Homo sapiens: one gene and its partners. The protein of the gene in region 6 purifies or fractionates together with the protein of the main gene of each other region. This does not show direct contact. Each region holds a gene or a part of one and is shown on either strand. Other genes may lie near its edges. The genes, in order: ACSL4, MTX1, XPR1, ABCD1, BTAF1, SLC15A1 and RAB3B.

Evidence for each region.
Region 1: the proteins of SLC15A1 (region 6) and ACSL4 purify together in Homo sapiens (affinity purification with mass spectrometry; 2 studies listed by BioGRID and IntAct, with this or other methods). This does not show direct contact.
Region 2: the proteins of SLC15A1 (region 6) and MTX1 purify together in Homo sapiens (affinity purification with mass spectrometry; 2 studies listed by BioGRID and IntAct, with this or other methods). This does not show direct contact.
Region 3: the proteins of SLC15A1 (region 6) and XPR1 purify together in Homo sapiens (affinity purification with mass spectrometry; 2 studies listed by BioGRID and IntAct, with this or other methods). This does not show direct contact.
Region 4: the proteins of SLC15A1 (region 6) and ABCD1 purify together in Homo sapiens (affinity purification with mass spectrometry; 2 studies listed by BioGRID and IntAct, with this or other methods). This does not show direct contact.
Region 5: the proteins of SLC15A1 (region 6) and BTAF1 purify together in Homo sapiens (affinity purification with mass spectrometry; 2 studies listed by BioGRID and IntAct, with this or other methods). This does not show direct contact.
Region 7: the proteins of SLC15A1 (region 6) and RAB3B purify together in Homo sapiens (affinity purification with mass spectrometry; 2 studies listed by BioGRID and IntAct, with this or other methods). This does not show direct contact.

Annotation. Positions count from the first base shown.
Region 1 is NC_000023.11:109,681,258-109,684,757, reverse strand, and holds part of ACSL4 (long-chain-fatty-acid--CoA ligase 4), read left to right. Parts: intron 1-1,091; exon of another isoform or gene 1,092-1,271; coding exon of another isoform or gene 1,272-1,394; coding exon 1,395-1,622; intron 1,623-1,861; coding exon 1,862-2,039; intron 2,040-3,382; coding exon 3,383-3,492; intron 3,493-3,500. UniProt on the Homo sapiens protein: Catalyzes the conversion of long-chain fatty acids to their active form acyl-CoA for both synthesis of cellular lipids, and degradation via beta-oxidation. Preferentially activates arachidonate and eicosapentaenoate as substrates.
Region 2 is NC_000001.11:155,211,695-155,214,323, reverse strand, and holds the end of MTX1 (metaxin-1), read right to left. Parts: intron 2,198-2,629; coding exon 2,105-2,197; intron 1,940-2,104; coding exon 1,757-1,939; intron 1,631-1,756; coding exon 1,554-1,630; intron 1,088-1,553; coding exon 933-1,087; intron 841-932; coding exon 626-840; 3' UTR 501-625; downstream 1-500. UniProt on the Homo sapiens protein: Involved in transport of proteins into the mitochondrion. Essential for embryonic development.
Region 3 is NC_000001.11:180,638,522-180,642,021, reverse strand, and holds part of XPR1 (solute carrier family 53 member 1), read right to left. Parts: intron 1-3,500. UniProt on the Homo sapiens protein: Inorganic ion transporter that mediates phosphate ion export across plasma membrane.
Region 4 is NC_000023.11:153,734,856-153,738,355, reverse strand, and holds part of ABCD1 (ATP-binding cassette sub-family D member 1), read right to left. Parts: exon of another isoform or gene 2,245-3,500; coding exon 2,102-2,244; exon of another isoform or gene 2,012-2,101; coding exon 1,843-2,011; exon of another isoform or gene 1,745-1,842; coding exon of another isoform or gene 1,445-1,744; exon of another isoform or gene 1,200-1,444; coding exon 1,105-1,199; exon of another isoform or gene 1-1,104. UniProt on the Homo sapiens protein: ATP-dependent transporter of the ATP-binding cassette (ABC) family involved in the transport of very long chain fatty acid (VLCFA)-CoA from the cytosol to the peroxisome lumen.
Region 5 is NC_000010.11:91,993,270-91,996,769, reverse strand, and holds part of BTAF1 (TATA-binding protein-associated factor 172), read right to left. Parts: intron 3,077-3,500; coding exon 2,923-3,076; intron 2,236-2,922; coding exon 2,126-2,235; exon of another isoform or gene 2,113-2,125; intron 402-2,112; coding exon 200-401; intron 1-199. UniProt on the Homo sapiens protein: Regulates transcription in association with TATA binding protein (TBP). Removes TBP from the TATA box in an ATP-dependent manner.
Region 6 is NC_000013.11:98,725,173-98,728,672, forward strand, and holds part of SLC15A1 (solute carrier family 15 member 1), read right to left. Parts: intron 1,688-3,500; coding exon 1,671-1,687; intron 1,278-1,670; coding exon 1,196-1,277; intron 1,093-1,195; coding exon 951-1,092; intron 1-950. UniProt on the Homo sapiens protein: Electrogenic proton-coupled amino-acid transporter that transports oligopeptides of 2 to 4 amino acids with a preference for dipeptides. Transports neutral and monovalently charged peptides with a proton to peptide stoichiometry of 1:1 or 2:1.
Region 7 is NC_000001.11:51,980,701-51,984,200, forward strand, and holds part of RAB3B (ras-related protein Rab-3B), read right to left. Parts: intron 188-3,500; exon of another isoform or gene 1-187. UniProt on the Homo sapiens protein: The small GTPases Rab are key regulators of intracellular membrane trafficking, from the formation of transport vesicles to their fusion with membranes.

The DNA of each region.
Region 1 (3,500 bases), on a different chromosome or scaffold from region 6:
TAAGGTCCAGCTTAAATCTAATCTCCACAAAGCCTCTCCTAGTTACTCTTGGCCATTTTGCACTTCCTCTGAACTCCTTTTGCATTTATTGCTTATACTACTGCCTACACTGCACATGGTAGTTATGTATTAGTTATGTATTACCACAAGGCTTTTCAGTGGAAATGCTTTAGTGGTCACCTTGGGAGTTGGGATTCCGGGAATTCTGGGGCAGGACTCTGGACATCCCCAAACCCTGTTTTGGCCAGAGCAACTCCACTTTAGTGTTATATATGGGCAGTTTCCAGTAGTGTTTATTAGAAGAGATGGTTTAATTGCACCCCCTGTCCCCGTTCCCCCAAACAGTTGCAAAAATACTGGATCTATCTTGTGTGATAGTTGACTCATAAGTGTTAACTTATAATGGCCAAGGGCCAGGAATTAATACTACTTCAGACTTGTATTACCACTCCTAGGCAACTGGTGCAGTTTTGAGCACAAAGTGGACATGTAGGAAATGATTTTACAATTGTATTGCTCCCATGTGGGAAATAGTAGATAGTAAATAGCATTACCTGAGAAATTTACCTTAATGAAGAACTCAGAATAAGGTTTCTGGGTTGACCTTTGAGAAATAAATCTAAGTTGATAGTTTCTGCCCCACCCCCCCCTTTGGATATAAACCTAACACTATTTAAAGATGTCTAGTTTACATGCACATGTTTAAGAGAAATCTTATTATTGGCATACCCTATTCTACCAAAGTTTTGACAAACTTAAATATCATATTCATGCATTTGTGTAAGCATTAAGGTTGTTATTCAACTCACAGAATGATATGCAGAGTACCAGTACACCTAGAAACCTAGAAAAAAATAAATTCAGAAGTTGATGTGCTCAAAGACATTTACGTCAATAATGATTACAAATGGAAAATGCCAGCCTTTCAGACCAGTTATTTCAGCTTTCTGTAATTAATTGTGTAAACTAATAAAGACCTGAGTATTTAAATCAATTGTGCTATCAACTTGTTAATATTCTTTTGTTTTTGTTTTTTGTTTTTTGTTTTTATTTTTCCTGCTCTCTGCTTGGTTCATTGTCATCACCTACAGGCGTACTTTATTGTCGGCTTCCAAAGATTACTAACTTTTATCTGTATCACTAAGATTGAACTGCCTTGGCTGTACTGCTATTCTTACTGCTGCTTCTATTATTGCCTTCTTCAGCACAATAAGGCTTTCAAAAGCCAAAGAATAACAAGAAATAAGCACCATTTTAGAAGCCTTTCCACTATGAAACTTAAGCTAAATGTGCTCACCATTATTTTGCTGCCTGTCCACTTGTTAATAACAATATACAGTGCCCTTATATTTATTCCATGGTATTTTCTTACCAATGCCAAGAAGAAAAACGCTATGGCAAAGAGAATAAAAGCTAAGCCCACTTCAGACAAACCTGGAAGTCCATATCGCTCTGTCACACACTTCGACTCACTAGCTGTAATAGACATCCCTGGAGCAGATACTCTGGATAAATTATTTGACCATGCTGTATCCAAGTTTGGGAAGAAGGACAGCCTTGGGACCAGGGAAATCCTAAGTGAAGAAAATGAAATGCAGCCAAATGGAAAAGTTTTTAAGAAGGTAAAGTATTTTGGTGCTTTTCATTTATGTTTTAAAGAGGAAGACACATTTGTTTTATCATAAATCGAGTGCGTTTTAAGTATGCTGGCATTCTATTATAGTGCTGTGTAAAACTACTCAGAAGCCGCTCATAGCTTCTGTATGTTCATTTAAGAGCATTTTTAGAGTTTTATGCTTTGGATAGTATTTTAATTGCTTGTTTGAATATACTAATATTAGAGAATGTATCACTTTAACAGTTAATTCTTGGGAATTATAAATGGATGAACTATCTTGAAGTGAATCGCAGAGTGAATAACTTTGGTAGTGGACTCACTGCACTGGGACTAAAACCAAAGAACACCATTGCCATCTTCTGTGAGACCAGGGCCGAATGGATGATTGCAGCACAGACCTGCTTTAAGTACAACTTTCCTCGTAAGTGCCTTGTGTTTTTGGAGGGGGGAGAGGAGGGTCTTTGCTTGCATGTGAGAATTGTTTTGAGATGCTCTTGTTTTCACAGTAGGTGTTGTTTAGCCATTTTACACATTAATTATGTCCATAATACGGCATGTAATATTGTGGCTAAAAGATATCCGATGACTCCTGTTAAGTATGGTAACTTGTAAGAACTAATATGGGAATTGGCAGCTTTAAGGGATGTGATTTACACTTTTATTTTCCAATTGGAAATGAATTGTAACTGAAAGAGTTGGAGTTTGGGGGTATTTTGGGGGGGTGATATACAAAGAGTAATGATTAAAAGAACAAAAAACCATTTCTCAGGATAATTCAAATTCATTGCTTCACTTTGAGACCTCTTATTTGACTTATTCTATTTTACGTGTGAAATATGCATGTGACAGCTGGAATTGGCATTAGATATGTTAGAAAGTAAAATTGAGTATATTTCTAATACTCAAGCATTTGTTGTTGCCATTGTTTAAGAAATAAACAATGTATTGTCACATACTAAGTACTCTGTTGTTTGTTGAATGAAATATAACACTGTAAGTTAGGATTATAGAGCTTAAATTTCAAACAAAAAATAGATAATATGAAAATGATCCCCTATGTACCCATTACCCACTTTCAACGATGAACAGCTTGTGAAAGTGGCTATTTTTAACCACATTGTTTCTGGTTACCAATCTAGAGCTGAATTTTCAGTTCTTTCTAAGTTTAGCAGATGTCCTTTGATTCTAACTGATCTTGGTTTATGTTATCTCTGGTGGCTCCTAAGGAGTAGATCTCCTTGATCTCTCTAATTAAGGTGTGGAGGTCACCAATCACATTGGACATTGGACTCACTAAAACAGCTTCTTAGAAGGAGTAAGAACATTATCTGTGGCTGATCTTATGACTTAAGATCCTCAAGATTTTCAAGGACTTATCCATTCTTTGGAGGCTATGGCCAATGAAAGTGTGTATCAAGAAGAAGCCCTAGCTGGGCCAGTCTGACCTGAATTAAGAGTTCAGCCAGTACCTATTGGCCTTGAGCATCTAAATTGACAGATTTTTGATCAGCTGTGGCAGTGCGAGTGTTTCTGGGTTTCTTCAGGTTTAGGAAGTGAGAGTTCTGGGAATTTGTAAGGAAAACTTTGGGCTCCCAGGGAGTTTGAAGCAAGGTTGAAGGATGGTAACAGAGACTATGAAATCAAATTAAAATATACAATGTCTTTGTGTCTCTAAGTGTAACTATTATTAAAGACTGACTTCAATAATATCCATTTCTAATAGATGTTTATTACTTAATATTTGTGTTTATTTTTATTATGTAGTTGTGACTTTATATGCCACACTTGGCAAAGAAGCAGTAGTTCATGGGCTAAATGAATCTGAGGCTTCCTATCTGATTACCAGTGTTGAACTTCTGGAAAGTAAACTTAAGGTAAATAT
Region 2 (2,629 bases), on a different chromosome or scaffold from region 6:
AAGGGACAGAGTCAGCTCACACGCTGTCTGTGACTAAAGAGGGCACAGCAGGGCCAGTGTGAGCTTACAGCGACGTAAGCCCAGGGGCAATGGTTTGGGTGACTCACTTTCCCCTCTAGGTGGTGCCAGGGGCTGGAGGCCCCTAGAAAAAGATCAGTAAGCCCCAGTGTCCCCCCAGCCCCCATGCTTATGTGAACATGCGCTGTGTGCTGCTTGCTTTGGAAACTGGGCCTGGGTCCAGGCCTAGGGTGAGCTCACTGTCCGTACAAACACAAGATCAGGGCTGAGGGTAAGGAAAAGAAGAGACTAGGAAAGCTGGGCCCAAAACTGGAGACTGTTTGTCTTTCCTGGAGATGCAGAACTGGGCCCGTGGAGCAGCAGTGTCAGCATCAGGGCGGAAGCCTTAAAGCAGCAGCGGGTGTGCCCAGGCACCCAGATGATTCCTATGGCACCAGCCAGGAAAAATGGCAGCTCTTAAAGGAGAAAATGTTTGAGCCCAGTCAGTGTGAGTGGCTTTATTCTGGGTGGCAGCACCCCGTGTCCGGCTGTACCAACAACGAGGAGGCACGGGGGCCTCTGGAATGCATGAGAGTAGAAAAACCAGTCTTGGGAGCGTGAGGACAAATCATTCCTCTTCATCCTCCTCAGCCATGCCCAGGGTCCGGGTGCCTGGGGCCCGAGCAGGCGTTGCCCGCTGGATGGAGACAATGCCGCTGAGCAAGGCGTAGCCCACCATGGCTGCCAGTCCTGCCAGCACAGATAGGATCTGGTTCCGGCGCCGGTATGGCTCCTCCTCAGTCTCTGGGCCTGCTGGTGTCTGGCGTTGCGGTGGTACCTCAGCTGAGGGTCAAGGAAGGAAGGTGTGTTAGGAGAACTAGTTCTTGGATCCCTGCCCACTCTCCCCAGGGCTGCCCCTCCCATCTGCCCCTTACCTCCATCCCAGGGGAAGTAGAGACTGAGAATGTGGGTACAATAGGCACAGAGGTTGTGCAGCCCACGCAGGTGGACCTGCAGCTTCCCACTGGGCAGCTTTGCCTGCAGCAGCAGGGCCAAGTAGCTGAAGACGAAGGCGTCCAAGGAGGCAGGGCTGGAGCAGAGAGAGAAGGGTGGGATGGAGGAGAACCACTGGGGTAGAAGGGGTAAAGATGGAGCTGGAGGAAGAGTCAGCCTTGGGAGGTGGGCTCTGGGCAGCAGGCGGCCACCAGGGAAGGACAGGACACACAGTTCTAGACCTGGTATGGGGAGAGATCCCCAGGTGGCGCCAGCCTGGCCCTGAATAGGGCTCTATCCCAGGGCTGCATAAAGGGCACATTCAGTGCCCCACAGCTCTTCAGGCCCCTCCTGTGCCTGGCTGCCCTCCCACCCTACCCTTTTGTACCTCTGAGAAGGCTCTGGCCCCCACACAGTCACACTGTCACTAGGGCCAGTTTCTATCCCAGGGACCTCCTATCCAGAGCCTGAGCCAGCCCCAGCCCCAGCCCCAGCTCCAGCTGCTCCATCTGAACCTGTATCTTCTTCCAAGCCACCCATTACCCTCTTGGAGTCAGACTCACGCATCTCCAAAGAAGAACTTTTGAGAGCCCAGGCGCTGAGAGAGCAGGGTCAGACACTCCCGAGCCTCTCGGTACAGCTGTAGGGGCGACACAGGTAGGCTTGCAGCTGTGGGAACAGTGCCACCTCCCCACCTAAGCACTCCCATTCCTGGCCAGCATCCTTGGGGCTCATCTCATACAATAGCCCCCGGTCTCAGAGCTACCTCCTTCTCCAGCTCTTCCTCGTCCTCAGGCCTGTGCTCCCCAGTCAGCAGCTGTAGCCGTTCCATGTACTGCCGCTGCATGCGGCCAGGCAGGAAGAAGTTGAGGGGAAAGGGCATAGCCTCTGCATACCACTTCCGGGTCACTTCCACGTAGTTCTTGGTGTCTATCCAAAAAGTATGTACCTGGATTGGGTGGGCAGGAAGAAACAGGTAGGTCTGAGCCAGTGCACCTGTCTGATTCAAGGTGGGCTTCTGACCCCCATGCTTTCCTGAGCCTGTGTGTGGGTCTGTGTGTTCCCGAACCCTCCCCGGCTGGCCATGGATGCTGGGAGGTCTGGGCACACTCACCAGCACCGGGAGCAACTTCTCCTCCAGGAGAGACATGAAGGCCAGGGTGTCTGCCCCTTGCCGAGCTGACAGATCATAATCAGCATTGTACTTCTGTGGAGGAAATATCCATGGCGTGGACACTAGGGAGCTGCAAGGGCACTTCACCAGGGAGGAAGGAGTCCTGTCTGGTACCCCCCTCACTGGCCTCTGAGTGCAGTGGAGGTACAGCAAGGAACTTTTCCTGCCAAGGCCCCCTTGCCTGGGCCCAGCCAGTAGCCTGTTGCTGTTGGCGAAAAGCCTGGGCCTTGGAGCCTCCTGGCCGTGAAGGTCCAGCGCCCAATGCAGGGAAGGAAGGAAGGCTCCGCCGCAAACTAGGAGCAGCTCCCAGAATTTCCATGGAAAGCTGGAACAACGCCCGCTGACGGCAACTTTCTAACAGTAACTTCCCCGACCCAGACACCACAAAGCTAGCACAACGGAGCTCAGATGCAGGCTAGGACTCGGTCCATGCCTCAGGAACCAGAGAAAGCCATCCTCACACTC
Region 3 (3,500 bases), on a different chromosome or scaffold from region 6:
GTTAATGGAATCTAATGGATTAGATACAGATAAATGTATTAATGCAGAGTATCTGAGTAATCATTAACAAGAACATTTAAATCCCTACTGACTCTTACAAAGAAACTTCATTCTTAAAATTTCAAAGCAATGTTTATACAGCAATGATAAGCCTTAACAAGATACAGCAGTAAGCAGAAGGCCAATATTCTTATATCAGGCTCTGCTATTAGCTAGTCATGAGACTCTGACCAGGTATCTTGGCATCTCTGCTCTCAATTTATTCATTTGTAAAACAGAGGGGTTGAGAAGGTCTCTTTCAACTCTAAAAAAGATTAAAAATTAAATTTTCACTAGAAAATTGAAAAGAACTAAAATCAGATACCCACTAAAAACTCAAGCAACTCACTTAAGCCATTCAGACATACTTAATAACACATGCAAATTTCACCTCAATTCTAAAAACAAATATACAGACACAGTCTATAACTGAGATGAACACAAGTTACAAGAGAACTAACTTACCTCACAGCCACATAATTGTTCTCACCTGGTTTTCTTACTCTGTACAAAAAGGTTAAGAGTGATTTATTAAGAAAAATATTAGCAAAAAATCAACAAAGCCATTTTCCATGAAAACCTAAACTGGACAAACCTGGAGGAACAAGCTTTGAGTCTCACTTTCCCAGTCAAAAATAATATTAGCCAAACATTATTTAGTATTGTTGAGCTCTGCAGAAGAAATAATTTTAATAGGAAATTTATTGCTGTTACTATGTGCCAGGTATTGTTCTAAACACTTTTCATATTTTTAACTCATTTAATCCTCACAACAATCCTGTAAGTACTATTATTATCCCTGTTTTACAGATGAGGAAACTGAAGCACAAAAAGGTTAACTGACTTGCCTGAAGTCACTCAACTAGTATGTTGGTGGAGCTGGAATATAAACTTAGGTAGACTGGCTTCAGAGTTTTTTTCTATGTGTTATTAATATACTAGCATATTATATAAACTAATGAGCAATAAAATGAATCAGGGTGATTGTGTTAACTCAGCTACAAACAAAACCATATAACCTGAATCACTTAACCTCTTTTCCCATTTGGGTAAAAAAGGAAGTTGAGCTAAATAAGCTTAAAAGTTCCTTACAAGTCTAACATTCCATGATTTATGATCCAGAAGCCAAACACCAAAACTGTAGCACAGCAAACAGCTGTCCACTTTTGTCCTCCTCTTTTTACCCTTATCACCTTATCTCCTTACCTTTTTCTTCTGATTTATCTTCGTAAGTTCCTTTATTTACCAGCTGGCTGTCCAGTAATAGTTACACTGATAACCTTGAGGGAAATATAATTTAACAGAGGTGAACACTATCCTACAGACCACACTCTACTATCTCCAAACTATGCAGACTAAGACCTGGGACTAAAAATAGACCCGCCATTACTTCACTGGGCTGTAGAAAGGTCAGCGGTGCCTAAGAACAGGTCAGACCAGGCCTAAATGTATGCATGTTTAAGTGGATGGATTTATTCATTTTTCATAAAACAGTACGCCATAGAAATTAAGAGCATGGGCTCTTACAATCTCCACAATTAGCTATCCACAATTACTATCAACATAATCAGTTACCTAATGGCTCCGAGATTCAGTCTCCACCATCTAGAAACGGAGCTAACAACCTACGCTATAAGAGGTGTTTTTAAAGAACTTACCACAGTGCCTGATACAGTAAGCGCTCAAAAAATAACAGCTGCTGTTATTGCCACTACTACCACCACTGCTGTTATTTACAATTTCCATATAAAAGCAACAGCTCCACAGTCTGATTTGATTTAATTTCAAATTCTGGTTCCATTTACTTACTAAGTATAGAGCCTTAAGCAAATTACTGATCTCTCTAAGCCTGGGTTTCCTCATCAGTAAAATGGAGATAATAAATCATCTATCTTACAAAACTACTGTGAACATTGAGATAACATATGTAAAACAGCTGACACCTGGTTCCTAACTGCTCAATAAATGTTAATTCCTTTCTCCTTAATGACAAGCTTACCACACTTCTGCTAATTCAATTTAAAGAAAGGAGAGTAGAATTAGGGATCACATGAGATCCAGGGAAGCCAACTTTCTTTTCTCTATTGTCCTTGCTGTAGGGCAGATACCAGACACTCCTCACCCAGGGAACTCCTTTATCCTCTTCCATGTTTGATAAGACTAGAGAACCTTTTTTCAGGCTATCTTCAAACTTCTAATACAGTATATGTATCGATGTACACTGGAATCCTCAATAACTGTTAAGAGTTTCAAGTGGTCCTGAAACCAAAAAGTTTGAGAGCCACTACTCTAAGGTATAAAAAAAGCCCACAAAGCACATGGATTACCCTATGAATTACGACTTTAACAAATTTAGCCTAGATAAGTAACTCACATAAAAATAACCTAAAAACTTCTCACTTTTCTCTATGATTAAATTTCAGTCCTTGAAAAAAATCACTTGTTCACTAGTTATTTACGAATAGTCAATGATAGAACTGGATTTTAGGATTTATATCTGGTTTCTGGTCCAAGGTCTTTCTAATACAGCAGGTCATCCTCAATTAATAAAAGATGACTATGTTTTCTTAATCAATATATTAAGCCTCTTGTTATAGAGATTATGAAAATTTTAAGTTATGTTTACAGTAGATTAATTATATTTTCCTTTGACTCCCTAGCAAATAAACAATTTTTAAAGGGTGTTTTTTTTTTTCAGACAGTGTCTCACTCTGTCACCCAGGCTGGAGTGCAGTGGTGCTATCTCAGCTCACTGCAACCTCCGCCTCCTGGGTTCAAGCAAGTCTTGTGCCTCAGCCTCCCAAGTAGCAGGCACACGCCACCACACCCAGCTAATTTTTGTATTTTTAGTAGAAATGGGGTTTCACCATGTTGGCCAGGCTGGTCTCGAACTCCTGATCTCAGGCGATCTGCCTGCCTTGGCCTCCCAAAGTACTGGGATTACAGGTGTGAGCCACCATGCCCAGCCTAATTTTTAAAACATTTTCTGATCAGTCCCTATACATACCACACTTGCTTGGTGATGGGAAGAAATAGGTGACTAAATATCAGTCTGAGTAAACAACTAAGACTTTAAAGGAATATAACTTAAGTTACAAAAGTAATCCAAATTTATACAGAAGTATAAAGTAGTACAAGATTTATTTGTATTACAAAAGTAATACAAATTTATACAAAAGTAATACAAATTTATATCCATGTTCCAAGTCCTCAATCTTCAGTCTTCCCTTTCTACACCACTTTTTAATTTTAAAAATACTATGTTGACTGAAATACAAAACCAAATACACACATACACACAAATTTGGGGTGTGTGTGTTTTGGTTTTTTTCTGTTATTTTTAAGGTACTGAAAGCTAGCATTTAATGACAAATCAGCCTATAGCAAAGGAAGACTTCTATAAATTTGTGGAATGAACGAATGATTTGTAAGGTATTTGTTCATGAGCTTTCTCTGCTGGC
Region 4 (3,500 bases), on a different chromosome or scaffold from region 6:
CCATCTCTGCTGGGAAAGCCACTCAAAGTTTGTAACGCTTTGTGACCGCAGCCACAGGATGCTAATGAAGCCACCTGACTGTCCCCTCCTGAAGGGTGGGGCCTGGGCCTTGCCCCATCTCGCATACCCGGCTCCCTGAGCATATGTGGCCCTGCGCGCAGGGGCCCCATGAGCTTGCCCGCTGCCCCTGCCTGCTTGTGCTGCCCGGGGCCAGCCTGGAAACCACCTTCCTTGGACTCACTGGTGATCAGCTCCCCCGACATCCTAGGAGGGGCCGCTGCGAGCGGTGAGGGGTAACCACCTGTGCCGGCCCCCTCCTCCCTGGCATGCCCCTCCTCTCTGCTTCCTCCTGCGTGACCTGCCCCTCAGGCCCACGGCCCCTCACTCCTCTACCCTCAGCTGCCTGCCCACTCGCTCACAGCAACTCCTGGGCAAGGCTTCATCCCACCCCCACCACCCCCAGGGACTCTGACCACTCTTCTTGTGACCCCCACTGTCCCTTGAACAGCTGTCTACCTGGAGACCCTTTGTAACACTTTAGTGCCCCTCCACAGTGAAGACTCCCTGAGTGCAGGTCTCCTGATTTACCTCGGGTTTCTGGTGCCCGGCTCAGAGTTCAGGGCACATTGGTTAAATGAGTGAATGAATGAGTGATTCCTTGTCACTTCTCTACCTGTCCCTCCACCCCAGTCTCCCCCTCACTCCATTACTCCCCAGCCCTGTCCAAACCCCTGGCTGGGGACACAGGTGATCTGTGGATTCCTTGCTGTGGCCTTCCGAGGGAGGTCGAGCGGCAAGGTTTGAACCAGAGCCCCCCCACCCGGGTCTTGGCTTTCTTAGGAGTGTGGGGAGTTGGCATCAGATGATAGGGCCAGGAACGCCGGGGTGAACCTTGGTCAATCCTGGTATCACTAGTCTCTTTTATGAGCCCTGCCTCTGTTGCCCCAGGATGAACAGTCAGAGACACGTTGGTCTCTCACCTTGACCTTGGCCCACCTGCCACGTACATCTAGGGACAATGGCTGTTGCCAGCACAGACAGGCGGGAAGCCAAGGGCTGAGGCTTGCATATGTGCGTGGCTGGCGCCCTCCCCGCTGGACCTACCCTGATGTTGAGGCTGGCCACCACCACCTCTCCTGAGGGCGTGACGATGGGGATGTTCTCGCAGATGATCCCCTGTTCCACATCCACCACCTGGCCTGCAGAGACAGCACAGCGGGGCTGGGGTGGAGAGGGAGTGGTGGCGACCCCTCTGCATTCTGGGGAGTCTGCGTGCCCCTGGCTGCACGCCCTCATTCCCATCCCTGGCAGCATGCCAGCTGGTTCCTGACCAGCAGCCTGTGGTCCAGGGTCCCTAGGGAACACAGCCAGGTCTTCCAACAAGCTGAACTCTTCCCCCAGTGTCTAATACAGTGCCCTGGGCCGCCACTCCCTTCTGCAGCACCTGCCTCCCGTGGCAGCCAGCAGCTGGCACACTGACTGGAACTTTCTCTTGCTGTCCTGCATGGGTGAGGGGACCACATCCCCCTTGTTTTGAATGAATAATCCAGGCTGAGGCCCTCAAAGGGCGAGTCAGTACGGTGGCCGGCAGCTACTGTCTGGGAAGGAAGGCGGGCGGACCAGCACCTCTCTGCAGGAAACCCTCCAGGGGCCCAGCTCGACCAGGCCGAAGTCCTCAAAGACCCTGCCCGGCAGCCCTCCCGTCCTGGGTGGACTGGGATGGGCCAGAAGCACATGGAGGTCCCTGAGTGAGGGAGCGGGAATAGGAGGAGCTGGGGCAGCAGGTCAGCACCTGCAGCAGCAGCAGGGGCGGGGTCACTCATAGGGAGGGGACAGCCTTACCTCGGATCTTCAGGGGGCCCTCCACACGGACACCAGACCGGCCTATGGTCCCAGACCCCGCCTGAGCGTCCTCTAGCTCCCTGGGCCTCTTGAAGTGACAGCGCTGAACATCTTCAAATACCTGGAACATCTCGTGCACCCGGGCTGTGTAGCCAGCCAGCTCCGTCACCTGAGGGAGGGTGACCCTGGCTCAGCCCCTGCCAGTTGCAGGGAGAGAAGCATGGCAAGGATGGCAAGGGTGGGGCTGGGCCAGGGGTACCTCCTTGTACGACGACATGATCCGCTCAATGGCATCTGCAGCCGCTGTCAGGAGGTTGCGGGCAATAGTGAAGGCTTCTGTGCGCTCGCTCACCAGCTCCTCCTCCTTCTTTTCCAAGGCTGCCTTCTTCACGGCCTCTGCATCTGCAAAGCCCCAGAGGGGTGGGTGGCGGGGCGGGGAGGGGCAGGGCAGAGACAGCGGAAAGTCAAAAATGAGCCGCTGGAGAGAAAGGCGAGGCTCTTCTGCAAATGGTGCCGGGGCAACCAGCTCTCTCTCTCTTTCTCTCTATGTGCAGGAGAGGGACCCCTCACACCATACAGACAAACCAACCCAGAGCACATCACAGGCTGATGTGTAGTGTGGCCCAAAGTATGAAACTCTCAGAAGAAAATGGGATAAAACTTCACGACCTTGGATATGGCAATAGTTCCTTCACTAGGACACCAAAAGCATGAGCAACAAGAGAAAAACAGATCAACTGAACCTCATTCAACTCAACACTTTTGTGCACCAAAGGACAATATCGAGACAGTGAAAAAGACAACCTACAGACTGGGAGAAAACTCTGGACTGGTGAACCACACATCTGATGAGGGTGCAGTATCCAGAATATACAAAGAGCTTTTACAACTCAGCGACAGAGATAACCCGATCACACATGGGCGAAGGACGTGAACAGACATTTCTCCAAAGAAGACATACAAATGGCCACTCAACACATCAAAAGAGGCTCAGCGTCATTAGTCATCAGGGAAATGCAAATCAAAACCACCAAGAGATACTGCCTCACACCCACTAGGTGGCTAGAATACAAAGGAGATGATAACCAGTGCTAGCCACGATGAAAAGGTGGAACCCTCCAACACTGCTGGCGGGAAGGTAAAATGGGGCAGCCACTGTGGAGAACAGTCTCGCAGCTCCTCAAAAAGTGAAACGTCCAGTTACCATGTGACCTGGCAATTCTACTCCTAGCTACACACCCAGGAGAAACGAAAATATCTGCACACATAGAGACTTGTCCATGGATGTTCACAGCAGTGTTATTCACAATAGCCAAAACATGAAGAAACCCAAAATGTCCATCAAGGGATGAATGGATAAAGAAATTGTGGTCTATGCACACAATGGAATATTATTCAGCCATGAAAAGGAATGAAGGACTGATTCATCTTATGACATGGACGAATCTTGAAACCATGATGCTCAGTGAAGGAAGCTAGTCACAAAATGCCACAGAGCACATGATTCCATTTCTAGGACATGTCCAGATAGGCAAATCCACAGAGACAGGAAGCAGATGAGTGGGTGCCAGGGGCTGGAGAGAGGGAATGAGGAGTGACTGTTCATGGGTCTGGGGTTTCTTTGGGGGATAAAATAAAAATAAAACATTCTGGAGTTA
Region 5 (3,500 bases), on a different chromosome or scaffold from region 6:
ATCATAAAATGCAAATCAGTTTGTAACACATTTGTAATAAAATACAAAAATATTTCAAAATAAGATGTAAAAAGAATAGGTATTTTTTGGAACAAGGCAGGTTATTTATGTGCATATTAGAACACATCAATTTCATTTTAATTATCCTTAAGTGAAATGAATATAATTCCTGAACAGTTTGTCAAATGAAAAAGGATACAGGCAAGTGCTTCAATTGCACCCTCTTGTTTGACACTGTCATCAATTGCTCCCAGCCACGGAAGAACCTTCTCCAAAAAAATATTCATTGTTTCCATGGTAGCTATTTTGCTCATGACACCTACACAACGAGCAGCCATGTGCCTCACTGCAGTACTGGGGTATTGAAGGCACATATAAAGATGTGGCAAATGCTGGACCAACTAAAAACAAAAAGTTAATGGCAATTAGAATTATTAGGAAATACTGTTTAATATGTAACTATAATAGCCCATACTCAGGAAAGTTTTCAATATTCTAAGTGACTCTAAAAATATCTCCAAATACTTCAAAACATTACTGCCAAAACATTCTCAATAGAAAACTAATCCAAATACAAATTAATGTATTACAACTCTTTCAAAAAGAAGGGAAAAAAAGGTATAGAACCTCTGCTCTGCTCATATCATCTCTTAGGCATATAGGAACACTCAATTCTTTCCAAAATTAACAGGAAACAAACCAAAAAGTACTTGGCAAGATTCTCCTACTGAAGCTGGAAAACAGCACCACACATCACCAGCTCCCTCCAAATTTGGTAGCACTAATTTAGATTTAGGTACATAATTTTTATTCAGTGGCTTGAGTGTTCCTGATTTTATTCTAGCACCATACTTTGGTAGGTATCGTCCACTGTAGCTTCCTGGCTTACCATAGGTGTTATAATCACAACAGCATCACAACAGCACCTTACTAAATGTCTGCTACAAGGAACACCAGAATTAATGCTGATGAGAGCCAGGTATCTGTTCAACAGTTTGATGTGCCTTACAGTTCAGCTGAATGCATGTTGCTAATTATGAAGATTAAGAGCGTACAGATGGACTCTACTTTTTTTTTTCCTTCTTTTTTTTTTTGAGACTGAGTCTCGCTCTGTCGCCTAGGCTAGAGTGCAGTGGCGCGATCTTGGCTCACTGCAACCTCTGCCTCCCGGGTTCCAGTGATTCTCCTGCCTCAGCCTCCCAAGTACCTGGGACTACAGGCATGTCCCATCACGCCCGGCTAATTTTTGTATTTTTAGTAGAGATGGGGGTTTCACCATATTGGCCAGGCTGGTCTTGAACTCCTGACCTCGTGATTCACCCACCTCGGCCTCCCAAAGTGCTGGGATTACAGGTGTAAGCCACCACGCCCGGCCTACTTTTCTTTACTAACAGTAAATCAGCAAAACTTTTAACAAGTAAAAGGACATACTTTATTACTATGTACAAAAAAAAAAATCCATTCTTCTCCACCCTCTCATAGATTCTCCCTTTTGTGTTAAATAACAATAGAGAACTGGGCTAATACCCTTCAAAATGGGGTAAATTGCAGACAGCTTCCTATTGCAGAGATATGAAAAGAATAATATTCTTCTATGAAAAAAACCAGATAATTCTCTATTTTCCTCCTCCCTCTGTCCTAATTCTTTTGTAAGAAACATTTTAATAGTTTTTTAAAAAAATCCCAAACCAGTGTTCTATCTTTGCCACTGACCAGCTTCACCTTAGGCAGGTGACTCCTTTCACCTTTGTACTTATCTAGGAAACAGATTTCATTATATATGCTTTTCCTTTCTTGGAGCTGTATTATTAGGATCATCTGGATGAACAGGGCTGCAGTTTTCTTTCCTATTTACATCTGGCTCCTGTGTCATCAGAGTCCTTTCCTCAATGCCCCCACATTCTAAGCTTCCAGGTTGGGTTTTCTATTAAATTCAAGCAGCCTGGTCTACATCAAAGCCCACAGGAGTTGCACTGTTAGTAAAGGAGGAATCTAGTTATACCACAGCAAAGAAAAATGCAATTAATAAGGATGACATCAAAGCTGTACCTTTCAAACCTTAAGACTTTTTAATAAGACCACTTGTTTTATTTGAAGAAATATTACACTTGCATTAGTTAGTTACCAAGGGATGAAGCTCAGAATCCATTGAAGCTGCTGCTGTTTCAAAAACCTGCAGAGAATTCACCAATTCTTGAGCAGGGCTATCTCCCTTATCCAGGAGGGATTTTCCATCTGTTAAAATATATTGTCTGTATTATCTGGCAAATAATTTTTCAAAATCTAGAGCACACAAAAACTTTTAGCACTTTTTCAGCTAGCATAGGAGAGTCAATTTTGCTTCTTAGTGTTAAAATTAAATGCCATGACCTTAATTTAAGTGCTGGGGTACTACATGTAGAGCAACCAAAGAACTTAAACATAGTGATCCATTTCAAGTATCTCTTTAAAAACAATTTTTTTTTTTTTTGAGACAGAGTCTCGCTCTGTCATCCAGGCTGCAGTGCAGTGGCATAATCTCGGCTCACTGCAACCTCCACCCCCAGGGTTCAAGCAATCCTCCTGCCTCAGCCTCCAGAGTAGCTGGGACTACACGCCCAGCTAATTTTTGTATTTTTGCTAGAGATGGGGTTTTGCCATGTTGGCCAGGTTGGTCTCAAACTCCTGACCTCAAGTGATCTGCCCACCTGGGCCTCCCAAAGTGCTGGGATTACAGGCATGAGCCACCATGCCCAACCCAAATATCTCTTTTATAAAATAAAGGTGTGTGTTTTTTTTAAACCAAGTTTCCATTTTAAAACTTACCAGCTGGTCTGGAATAAACAGGTAGAGGCATAGAGGCATTTTTATTTTATAAGGATATATTCAATTAATAGACATTAAAATTTGTTAAAAACTGGACTCATAAAAATATGTGTATACCAAAATTATTTATGTCGATTGTATTCCTCAATGGGCCAACCATAGCATCCCAGAGATGTGGCAACTTCACTGCCATTTCACCACCAAAATGCTTTACTATAGTTGTCAAAGCAAATTCAGCTCCTCTCCGTTGTACCAGGTAAGGCTTCTGGGCCTTAAAATTAAATGTTAGATAAAAACAGAATTTCAGAAAAAATCATAATACATTTAAAATTTTAACAAAAGAATTTAAAAGTCACCATCTAAGAATTCATAATGTTATCATTAACCAAGTAAGCAATTATTAGACATGTTTGTCTCAATTATAAACATTTCCCAATAATTAAATTTACAGGGGCCTACAACACCTAACTAGATTTTTGTGACCAAAGTAAAACACTTTTTTGGGGTTGAGGATAAGGAACAGACGGATATGTGCTGTTTCTAGAGATAGTCCTAAGTGACATTTTTTTTCCTCCTTCTCTCTACCTCAAAGAAACTTGTCAGCTAGAGAGAAGATAGATGAAGTGATGTGTCCTTATTTACATTCACTTAAGGGATAGTACAAGATCATCTGTTTAAGCTAACCCCAAGATTAA
Region 6 (3,500 bases):
GACTTTCATCAGATGCTTGGTCTTCCAGCCAGCAGAATCATCAACCAAATATACCTTTTTCCTTTATAAATTCCCCAGCCTCAGGTATTCCTTTATAGCAACACAAGTGGACTAAGACAGCCCACGTCATTCCTTTGGCCTGGAAGAGCCTCTACTTCCTTCTTCATTAAGTCCCAGGAAAACTTTCCTGACAACATCCCACTGGGTGTGCTCGTGGAGCCCTTCCTGGAGGGCTGGGTGACTTCTCTCTTTAGTGACCTCACACCATGTGACCTCAAGCAGCGTGAGCCCCTCAGCAGCCAAGGGGGTATTTTAGAGAGTTTCTTCATATCCCCAGACCTTAACTCCATGCCTCACACATCACTAATAATAGACAGTATCCCTGCTACTGTGTCAAGATGTGACAAAGATGCTACATTTGTTTGCATTAGGGAAAAACAAAAACCTATAGATGCTGCTTGCAGTCACTAAATGTCAGGCACTGTTTCAGGCTCTAGGGACAGGATACTGAGCAGAAACAGCGCTGTAAATGCTCTCCTAAGGGTTTGTTTCTGTTTTTAATTTGTTTTTGAGACAGGGTCTTGTTCTGTCATCCAGGCTGGGGTGCAGTGATGTGATCACAGCTCACTGCAGCCTTGACCTCTGGGGCTCAAGCGGATCCTCCCACCTCAGCCTCCCAGCTAGCTGGGGCCACAGGTGTATGCCACTATGCCTTGCTAATTTCTTTATTTTTGGTAGAGATGGGTCTCACTATGTTGCCCAGGCTGGTTTCAAACTCCTGCCTCAGCCTCTCAAAGTGCTGGGATTACAGGTATGAACCATACCACACCTGGCCTCTCCTAAGAGTTTCTGTTCTTTGATTCATCATTCCCAGATTCCACCATTCCCAACTACAAAACCTACATTTACTTTTTCGCTTGTTTGTGAACAAGAAATTTCCAGCCACTCACTTGAACTTTCCCAGCCACGAGTCGGCGATAAGAGCTCCGAGAATTGGCGTCAGGTAGCACAGAGCCACAAACGTATGGTAGATGGCGGTGGACAGGTTATCATCCCAGCTGATGAAATTTGTGAAGTACAGAATCAGGATTGCTTTTGCAGAGGGCAGGTGGAAGAGGAGGGGGAAACAAAGTTAGGACTGGTTATGGCCACTCCCGCTCTTCCCTGAAGGGTGAGAAACGGCCAATACAGTTACCTCGCATTCCATAGTAGGAAAATCTTTCGCAAAACTCATTGACCACGATGAAGAAGATGCTCAGGGGATAACCAAAGAAACTCTGACAAAAAAGAAACAAGCACAGGATTGAAATACACCCCCCACTGGTCCATAGCCACAAAGGAGCACCAGTGGCATGAAAGGCAGCCAACGCAGATTCAGTAACTTACCGGTGACTGTCTAGAGCAGGAAACTAGCATTTAATCATTTTATTCCCTACACTAATCCTTCCACATAGAGACAGCAATGAAATAAAGCATCCAGTGGTATTGTTAGTCTGAGGAGGATTATCCACAGCATTTCCTCAGGAGAGGACATCTCACATGGAAATCCGGGATCATACCCTCACTGGTTCCAGATGTACAGATCTGTTAGGTGAATGAACCCTTAGGGGTAAAACAGATGATAAAATTTACAAGATGAAGATATGTAGAGAAGGAAAAAGGGTACTCACGTGTGATTTGGACATTCCTAAAAGAAAAACAGAATCCCAATATTAAAGTCAAGCCATTACAATAGTTTTTGCTGTGTCTAAACTCAGAGCCTCTGACTTTTTAGGGTGGTCAGAGGGGCCATTCACCAAACAGCTCCAGCCCTCCCTGGGATCCCGGCCCCAGACTCATGCTTCTTATCTGAGGTGGGGCCTGGCATCTGTATTTTCTTTTAAGAAGCTCCTCAGGCAATTCTCGTATGCAGTCAAAATTGAGAAGCAGCAGCTCAGAGAATCAGGCCTAAACCATTTCCTCCTGAAACACTTCAAAGGCCGCCCATCGGGATAAAATCCACACATTCTAGCATGTTCTTCAATATCTGACAAGTGTTTTGGTGGGGATGAAATTTCTGTAATATAAAATGCTTCTGAGTGCCTGACACACTGTGCACACTCAACCGCCACCTCCTATGGCTTGGGCCCTGCCTGCCAGGCTCACCCCATGATTTAAGTCTTGCCACCGATATTCCCTTCCCAAATCATCTCTGATGTGCCTACATCACCATACTGTAATGATGGGCAGTTTATATTTTTGCTTCCCTTCTGGACCAGGTTCTGAAAGCAGAAGAATCATGTGCCATCCATCACACCAACATCCCCACTTTCAACGTCCTGTACAATACCTACCACTGGTAGGGGGTTATGTCACAAGAATGAATGAGAAGAGCAGGAAGAAACAGCCTGAGAATACAAGGGAGCTGGTGCACGTCAAGTCCAGTGGACTCTCCCATGTGCATCCTAGGAGCGCCTCATCCCCATCCCGTCAGCACCTGCTCTTCTGTCTCCCCGGAATTTTGGCAAGAGCTGAGCTGTGCCCTTGTCTCTAGTCTTTACACCTCCTCACTCTGCTCCTACACAAACACATTGCCCTGTGTTCATCCGTGTCTATCACATACTACCCTGTTTCCCACAGGACATCCATCCCCTTCCCCCTCACTCACCCCGATTTCCTTATATTAGAGTTCTTTGTTGCCAGGGCTCCCTGAACATGCTCCACCTCCATTAGGAATCTAGGAATCGGTGACCCCATAGCAGTGGGTCTCACACTGGAGTGTGCCTCAGAATCACCAGAGGGCTTGCAAGAACAGATGGCTGGGCCCCATTCCTGGAGTTGTTGATTCTGTAGGCCTGAGATGGACACTTGAGCTTGCATTTCTAACAAGCTCCCAGGTGTGGGTGCTGCCACTGGTCCAGGCAGTGTGCTTTGGGAATCACTACACTGGAAAATTATTCTTTAGACTGTTCTTTTCCCAGTGTTTGTTCTTGGCAGCTTTGTCAAAAATGAGTTGGCTATAAATGGATGCATTTATTCCTGGGTTCTCTTTTCTGTTCCATTGGTCTATGTGTCTGTTTCCATGCTGATTTGGTTACTACAGCTTTGTAGTATATTTTGACATCAGGTGGTACCTCTGGCCCTATTCTTTTTGCTCAGGATGACTTTGGCTTTTCGAGGCCTTTTGTTGTTGTATATGAATTTTAGGATTTTTTTCTATTTCTATGAAAGTTGTCGTTGGATCTTGTCATTTGCAGCAATACAGATGAAACTGGAGGACATCAGGTTAAGTGAAATAAGCCAGGCACAGAAAGATAGATATCACATATTCTCACTCATATGTAGGAGCTAAAAAATTGATCTCATGGAGGTAGTAGTGGGTAGAATGGTGGTTACCAGAGGATGGGAAGGGTAGGTGAAGGTGGGAGGATGAAGCAAGGTTAGTGGATACAAAAACACAGTTCTGTAGAAGGAATAAGAGCTGGTGTTTGGTAGCACAACACGGTGACTACAGTTAACAA
Region 7 (3,500 bases), on a different chromosome or scaffold from region 6:
TGTGCAATTCACAGCAAAGTAGTCAGGAATCGATCTCATGAAGCCCGCAAGGACCAAACACCCCCACCCTGATTTAGACCTGTAGGTGCTGCCCCACGACCCCCACCAAAGCCCATGTAAGGAGCTGAGTCCTTAAAGACTGAAGATGGACTATTTCCTGGAGAAAAATAAAATGGAAATTGTACTTTAAAAAAAAGCCATCTATTTTAATACTATGTTTTATTTGTTAATTTAAAAGGTAATACATACTTACGGAAAATAATTCAAGCATATCCTATTTGCAAGTATTACCTTTTTTACCAGCTGTAGCTCAATTATTATTATTTTTATTTTATTTTATTTTATTTTGAGACAGGGTCTCTCTCTGTCGCCCAGGCTGGAGTGCAATGGCACTATCTTGGCTCACTACAGTCTTGATCTCCTGGGCTCAAGCAATCCTCTTACCTCAGCCTCCCGAGTAGCTGGGACTACAGGCATGTGCCACCATGCTCAGCTAATTTTTGTACTTTTTGTAGAGATGGGGTTTCACCATGCTGTCCAGGCTGGTCTTAAACCGGGATCAAGTGATCTGCCCTCCGTGGCCTCCCAAAGTGCTAGAATTACAGGCGAGAGCCACCACACCCAGCTGCATTATTTTCTTAATTCCTAGCATAAAATACAAGTAATATGAAACCTAAAGGTTTACACTGAAAAGTAAGTCTTGCTTCCATCTCTGATTCCTGATCCAGTTCCCCTCCCCAGAGGCATACATGTTATCAATTTATATATCCTTCAGAGATAGCCCTTGCATATATAAGCAAAGAGACCTATTTATACTTTTTATTTCTATATAAATAACATACCATGCATTCTAGTCTATACCTTCTATGCATATTGTAATAGCTGACATCATATGTACAAGGTATAGGCTAGAATATATGGTATGTTATCATTTAGCAAATCACTTAAATTTTAAAAGTACAATCATGAACTGCATAACAACATTTCAGTCAATGACAGACCACATGTACAATGGCGGTCCCATAAGATTATAATGGAGCTGAAAAATTCCTATTGCCTAGTGACATAGTAGCCATGGTAACATTGTAGCACAACACATTACTCACATATTTGTGTTGATGCTGGTGTAAACAAACCTACTGCATTGCCAGTTGTATAAAAGTATAGCACATATGATTATGTGCTATACATAATACTTGATATTGATAATAAATGACTATGTTACTGGCTTCTGTATTTACTTACTACACTTTTTATTGTTATTTTAGAGTGTACTTTTTCTATTTATATTTAATATTTTTTAAAAAGTTAACAGTAAAACAGCCTCAGGCAGGTCCTTCAGGAGGTATTCCAGAAGAAGATATTGCCATAAGAGATGACAGCTCCATGCCTATTATTGCCCCTGAAGACCTTCCAGTGGGACAAGACATGGAAATGGAAGGCAGTGATATTGATGCTCCTGGACCCTGTGTAGGCCTAAGCTCAGGTGTGTGTATTTGTGTCTTCCTTTTTAACAAAATAATTTTAAACATAAATTTAAAAACTAAGGAAGAAAAGAAAGAAAAGGCCAGGTTCAGTGGCTCATACCTATAATCCCAACACTTTGGGAGGCCAAGGTGGGAGGATCGCTCAAGCCAAGGAGTTTGAGGCTGCAGTGACCCATGATTGCACCACTGCATTCCAATCCAGGTGACACACTGAGCCTTCATCTCAAAAAAGGCCATACGGTGTATTTGTGCTTTAAGTTAAGTGTTGTTATAAAAGAGTCTATGGCTGGGCATGGTGGCTCAGACCTGTAACCCCAGACTTTGGGAGGCCGAGGCAGGCAGATCACTTAAGGTCAGGAGTTCAAGACCAGCCTAGCCAACATGGTGAAACCTCATCTCTACTAAAAATACAAAAATTAGCCAGGCGTGGTGGTGCGCACCTGTAATCCCAGCTACTCAGGAGGCTGAGGCACAAGAATTGCTTGAACTCGGGAGGTGGAGGTTGCAGTGAGCAGAGATCCACTGCACTCCAGCCTGGGTGACAGAGCAAGACTCAATCTCAAAAAAATAATAATAATAATAATAAATAAAAAATAAAAGAGTCTAAGAAGTTTTAAAAATTTTTTAAGTTTATAAGGTTTAAAAGTTATAGTAAGCCAAAGTTAATTTATTATTGGAGAAACATATTTTTAAATAAATTTAGTGTAGCCTAAGTGTAGAGTGTTTATAAAGTCTCCTATAGTGTATGGTAATGTCCTAGGCCTTCACATTCACTCACCACTCACTCACTGACTCCCCCAGAGCAACTGCCGGCCCTGCAAGCTCCATTCATGGTTAAGTGTCTTATATAGGTGTACCATTTTTTATCTCTTATACCATATTATGCCTGGGTGCAGTGGCTCACACCTGTAATCCCAGCACTTTGGGAGGCCAAGGTGGGTGGATCACTTGAGGTCAGGAGATAGAGACCAGCCTGGCCAACATGATGAAACTCCATCCCTATTAAAATACAAAAAATTAGCCAGGCATGGTGGCAGATACCTGTAATCCCAGCTACTCGGGAGGCTGAGGTTGCAGTGAGCTGAGATTGCACCACTGCATTCCAGCTTGGGTGATAGAGCCAGACTTGGTCTCAAAAAAAAAAACCATCATATTTTTACTGTACCTTTTCTATGTTTAGATGTGTTTAGCTACACAAATACTTACCACTGTGTTACAATTGCCTGCTACATTCAATACAGTAACATGCTGTACAGGTTTGCAGCCTAGGAGCAATAGGCTATCTATTCCATATAGACTATGTGTATAGTAAGCTATACCATATACCATATAGGTTTGTGTAAGTATACTCTATGATGTTCATACAACTATGAAATCGGCTAATGACACATCCCTCAGAACATATCCTTGTCATTAGCAATGCAAGACTGTACTTAAATACTACAAAAATTTAGTAGTACCAAAAGTACTACAAAAATATGAGATTTTGAGGCCAGGTGCCGTGGCTCAGGCCCATAATCCCAGGACTTTGTGAGGCCGAGGCAGGCGGATCATTTGAGCTCAGGAGTTTAAGATCAGCCTGGCCAACATGGTGAAATCCAGTCTCTACTAAAAATATAAAAATTAGCCAGGTGTGGTGGCGCACACCTGTAATTCCAGCTAGTCAGGAGGCTGAAGCACAAAAATTGCTTGAACCCAGGAGGCGGAGGCTGCAGTGAGTCAAGATTGCACAACTACACTCCAGTCTGGGTGACAGAGCAAGACACTGTCTCAAAAAAAAAGAAAAGAAAGTAAGGGCTGGGCGCGGTGGCTCATGCCTGTAATCCCAGCACTTTGGGAGGCTGAGGCGGGTGAATCACGAGGTCAGGAGTTCGAGACCAGTCTGGCCAACATGGTGAAACCCCATCTCTACTAAAAATACAAAAAATTCGCTGGGCGTGGTGGTGGCTGCCTGTAATCCCAGCTACTCTGGAGGCTGAGGCAGGAGAATCACTTGAACCTGGCAGGCGGAGG